2 separate regions of the Homo sapiens genome follow, and region 1 is linked to region 2. The links come from fine-mapping of genetic effects on gene expression. Tissue or cell type: tibial artery. Region 2 holds a variant in brackets; the other region holds the start of a gene. All regions are shown on one strand. Distances are from middle to middle.

The links. PIP is the estimated chance that this variant, and not a neighbour inherited with it, causes the effect.
Region 1: OSR1 starts here. The variant in region 2 is fine-mapped to the expression of OSR1 in tibial artery (GTEx, PIP above 0.99).

Annotation. Positions count from the first base shown.
Region 1 is chr2:19,357,455-19,360,138 of GRCh38, forward strand. OSR1 (odd-skipped related transcription factor 1) reads right to left here and starts at 1,169. Exons shown (of 3, transcript NM_145260.3): 1 at 887-1,169. RefSeq lists an enhancer at 513-1,041.
Region 2 is chr2:19,741,452-19,744,135 of GRCh38, forward strand. No RefSeq gene overlaps it. Among named protein-coding and RNA genes, the nearest start is that of LINC00954, 130 kb to the right of the region's middle. The variant G/A (reference allele first, on the strand shown) is at 1,261.

The DNA of each region.
Region 1 (2,684 bases), 380 kb before region 2:
TTCTCCGAGACATTTCCGAGGAGAAATTAGTTCAGCAGGCAGCCCTTCACCCCTTTCCCCCTTCTTTCTCTCCTGACGGCTGGATTAGCGGACAGTCAGGGGAGTAACAGAACTTTTCCTGTCCCCAGCCCGGAGACCCTAGGGCTCCACAGAGTTTCCACTAGTGCTGTGTGTGGGTCTCGAATTGGAAAGCAGTGCTTGCGCCCACTGCATTGCCTCCCTGCACCAGGACAATCAAGGGTTCCGCTCCAGGCCTTGACGACACAGAGCAATCATCCTATGGAGAATATCCCTAAGTTAGAGCGCGAGTGCAAGGCGGGGTTCAGACTCGCAGCCCTGCGCTCTCGGGTCTAGGCGGCCTCATACTAGAGCGCAACTCCTCAAAAGACAAACTTGAACGAAAGCGCTACCGAGCTGGGGCATGCACCTGTCCCTGGCGCGGTCGGCTGCGGCTGTGGCCATTCACTCCCTCTCCCTTCCTTCTTCGTCAACCTGGGCGTCAGCCAGAGCTAGGAGCGCGTCTCAGGAAAGTTTGTGCCCGCTGAAGTTGCTCTGGTTTCTTAAAGGGGGCCCACAGATTGACTTTCAAAGTCCGTGGGCACCTCGCCCGTGATTCCGCAGAGCCGGGCGGGCTGGCCGCAGTAGCGGAGGCCCGCCCCCCTTAATCCCCAGCGGTCAGAGGCCGAGGACCCCGCGCAGGAAGTCCTGAGGCAGCACCCCCAACCACCCTGCTCTCACTTTCACAAAAGTCCTACAGCATTCGTTTGGCAAGAGCTTCCTTCAGGGGCATTGAGAGAGAGGAGGCACCCGCCGAGCAGTGACAAGGAACCTGGGAGTCCTGCCCGCATTCGCTTTGCTGAGCCCAGGCGCCCAGGACTGCAATTACCTTGTTCCGCAGAGGTCCTGGGGCTGAGCACGTCTCTGGGGCTTTAGCTGAAGGGGACTGGGGAAGCCGGAGGCCCTGGAGCCCACAGGCGCCCCTGGAGCTCTAGTGTCCCGACTCCTCTCCTGCCGCGGGGACTCCAAGCGCCGGACACGCGGGAGCGAGCGCTCAGCAGCCCCGGATCCTGCACGCCGGGGACGGTGAGCCTCGCTCGCGGCTCCCTCGCTGGGTCTGAACCAGGAGCAGCTGAGAACGTGCCGGGGAGAGGCCGAGCTCCGACTCACTCATCCCTTAGCACCGAGCCGCCTACTTATTTTAATCCACCACCCTCCCTCCTCCACCACCCCCACCCCCGCCCCTTGCCTCAGGATTCCTCCCCTCCCTCCCCTGCCCCCCAACCCTGCCCTGCGCCTGCGCAATGAAAGACAAAGTTTTTGCTGACCCGGGCAGCAGACTTTGGCAGCTGCTCTCGCTTGGACCCGGCCTCTCCCAACCTGCGTCCCCTCCTCTTCAGTCCCGCGCGACCCCTGCTGCCTTTTTAGGTCCAGAGCGGCACGCCTGGCGCACTGGAGGAAACGGTCCCTAGCAGATGAGAGCGGGCTGGCACCGCACGTTTCGAGGTCCTATACTTGGGCTCCTAGGACACAGCCCGTGCTCTTTGGGAGGAGGGAGGGAGGGGCAGTAGCTCTGTGCACCGGGATCCCCACACCGCGGCTTGGGTTTCAACGCACTTTGGCGCCTGACAGAGTCGCATCTCCTCCCAGAATCTCTTTCCAGAGGCGGCAGACCCCGAGTGTGGAGCAGCTCCTGGCTATCCAAGCGTGCTCGGGGCCAGGGTGTTAACCCAGGCAGCGCTGGTTAATTCCTGGTGCGGGAGGGCCAGGGTCACCGAAGCAAGCGAGCTGTAACATCTGAGTGCTTATGGTTGACCCCAGACCCTAAGTTCTGGAGTCCAGTAGAAAGAACAAAGAGTAGGGAAAGGAGGTCAGGAAAGTTATTTTCCTGGGGCCCAGAACTCTCTGAGATTTCACCCCAATGCACAGTGGCACTCTCTACTTACATATTTGTTTTAGGATGGATCAGAGTTTAGAGAGCCGCACTGGCAAGCTAGACGAGCTGCAAAGTTGTCAGTTCCAGGGCCTCTGAGTCAAGGAGCTGGTTCAGGTGGAGTTTTTAATCGGAAAGGAATCAGAGTTCTGGACATTAAAAATTCTATCTTCATTGCCTAGGCATTATGGAGGGTACCATCACCCCCTTGACTACCCATCTCTGAAAGCTGACCTCCGGCTGACCCCAGCCCAATCCCTCCCTAATGCCTTTCTGGAATACCCTTCCAGGCCTTGGGTTTGGCAAGGAGGAGTCACTGGTTTCCTGGGACTTGTGTGGGTCCAGATCACACAACTGCACTCTCTGCCTTTGCCCCAGAGTTGCTGCTGAGTGACTCTTGGAGCTGGATCCTAGATTCCGTGGGTCCCTAAGTACTGTACTGCTTCTCTCCCGAGGAGCTTCTGCTATCTCCAGCTTTGGTTTGCAAAGCTAATCTGATTTTCTTGGGAGGTGAAGAAGGTTGTAATACCTGACCTAGGGAGATGGTAATGAAGACTCCCCTCCCTCAAAGGCATAGTTGAAAGAGGATTTCCTTATATCCCCAGGCCTTTAGAACAGAATCTAGCCTCTAACCCCTGGGTAACTTCGTCTTGTTTGAGGAGGAGTAAGAGGGGGTGCAATCTTTGCTCCAACGAACAGCTTTTACCCAGTGCCTCAGGTTAGTGCAGAAGTAAGAGATTCACATAAGTTTGTC
Region 2 (2,684 bases):
GATGGTACAACTACTTTGGAAAGTTGTATGGCAACTTCTTATAAAGTAAAACATACACTTACTTCACGATCCAGAAATTTCACTCCTACGTAATTACCCAAAAGAAATAAAAACATGTGTCCACAAAAGACTTATATATTAATCCTCCCAGCATCATTATTCATAAAAGCTCCAAATTTGAAATACCCCCAAAGTTCTTCAAAGGGAAAATGGATAAAGAAAGCAAGGGTAAGACCCATATAATGATATAGCAGGTAACAATAAAAAGGAATGATGACAGATACACAAAAACAACATGATAAATCCCAAAAATATTATGCTCAGCAAAAGGAACCAAGGAGAAAAAAGAGTTCATATTGTTTGATCCAACTTTTTTTTTACAAATTCAAGACCAGGCAAAATGAATCTATGAGGATGGTATTCAAAATAGTGGAGTTTTTTTTTTCTGTAGAGAAAGAGAAATTAGAGGAAAATGACATGGGGAATTTTCTCAAGTAATGAAAATGCTTTCTATCTTAATTGGACTATTGGTTACATTGGGATATACAGTTGGTAAAGCTCATTGAATGTGCATTAAGTTCTGTGCATTTTATAGTATGTAATTATACTTCAATTAAATGTAAAGGAATAATTAAAAATAAAATAATCCACTCAAGTATTATTTATAAATGCCTTCTCTGTACCAAACCTTGGGCTAAGGGCTGGGATGTGGCCCTGAATAAGATGCATCCCCTATCTCAAGAAGAATGAATGGGAAAGCACCCCTGTGATATTTCAGCATCCTAGTGACTGAGGCTTTGTGCACACACACACACACACACACACACACACACACACACACACATATCAGAAGCAGTGGAGGCTTCTCCCTTGCTACTCTGGGTCTCTGATGTATGGCAATGCATAAACATTTGGGTCAAAAGGAACCCCCTCCCCGCCCCCCCCCCAACACACACACACACAGAACTACTAACTGCCCAAAGTATCCTGAACAAAGAAGCTTCTAGAATTAGTCTTCAAGGTCAGAAGCAACCAAACTCTAGCATCATGCCCAGAGTCCTGAAGCAAGACCCCTGCCTTTCTTCCCAGGGAAGGTACAAGCTCTTCTCCTTGGGGTTTGAGCCTTGCCTGCAGTGCTAGAGAGGCCACGGGAAGAGGGAAGGGAGGGCCCTTGACCTGCTGGCCCCCAGCTCCCCACCTACCCCTCCAGGGAGAGGAGAAATCCAAACAAAAGCCCATTCTCACAGGCAGCCTTTCCAA[G/A]AAAAACCAAGTTCTAGAGATGCCGGGTCTGGTGTGAATAAGGGAAAAATGCAAAAATCCAAAAGGCAAGGTCCAAGAAACATTTCTCCCACTGAGTGTGCTATGAAAAGAAAGGGCACAAAGAGGTGGATGGGAAGGAACTCCAGGGTACCCACAGCCAGTATGGGGGTTGACCTCCAGCCACCATTAATTTTCCTGAACAGAATCTGATTTTCAGTGACCCAGGAAGTGCCCCATGACTTTCAAAATGTTAAATCCTACAAGAAGGAACCTCTTATTTCTGAGCTTTGATTACTCATTTGTCAAAAGAGAATAACAACCCCCACCCTACCCACTTCACAAGAGTGAGGTGGGGCCCCATAAGGAGGAAACAAGCTCTGAGACACCATAGGCCTTGCCTTGGCCAATGTGGAGCGTGTCTCACTGCCTGTTAGGATATTTGTATTTTATAAAGAGAGGAGCATGGGTTAGAATTCTGGCTTCACACACGCTGTGTGAATTTGGAAAAATAACTATTTCTCTGAGCCAACTTCCTCATCTGTAGAATGAGAAAGTTGATAGCTCTCTTGAAGTTTGAGCAAAGATTAGAAAAATGTCTATACAGCCTTTAGGAGAATATCTAGCATATAGAGAGCATTCAGTAAATGGGAGTTGTTATAATTCCTAACCATGAAAAAGAGATTCTACACACTCCTGCCTTTAGCCTTTAGAAAAGGGAAGTAGTAGAGCTCTTGGGTTGGCCAAATAAAAACCACACACACGGGCACATACTTTTCTGAAAGAATTTATTAGGCATCCTGGGAGCATTAAGAGCTGCTACTATACACCGAGCCCTCTTCTAGGGTGGGCACGGTGCTCAGCACTCTGGCTTGTGTTATGGCATTCACAGACACTGCAGGAGGTAGAGAGGATCCCATCTCCATTCTACAGAGCAGAGCGCTGTGACTCAGTGAGGTTACAGACATTGCTTGACTTCATACAACCAGAGAGCGGCAGAGGTAGCACACACATGTGGGACTGCCGGAGTCCAAAGCCCAGGCCCTCAGGGCTGCGGTGTGCCAACATTCTCACCATATGCAAGCTGAAAAGCTCAGAAATCCCAGCCAATCACAGGGGACATTGCACTCTCAGAAGTGGACAGAGTCTGCAGCCTGGTGACTCTTGCGTAGCAACTGCAACCACCACCTTCTCCACCAACATCCAGGAGTAATGTGTCTTTCATTCCCACCTCTCTGTCTATAGATGTCAGCAAGGTCACAGCCAGCCAAGGCAACCAAGGCCTATCTGCATATTGTCAGATAGACCAGCAGGGACCTTAGAATACTCTTGGGTGACTTGTTGAGGCTTGGAGGAAATGTTGGTGGGGAGGGCTGGTGAGATGGGGCAGTGGAGGCAGAGGGGAAGGAGGAGCACTGCAGAGAGAC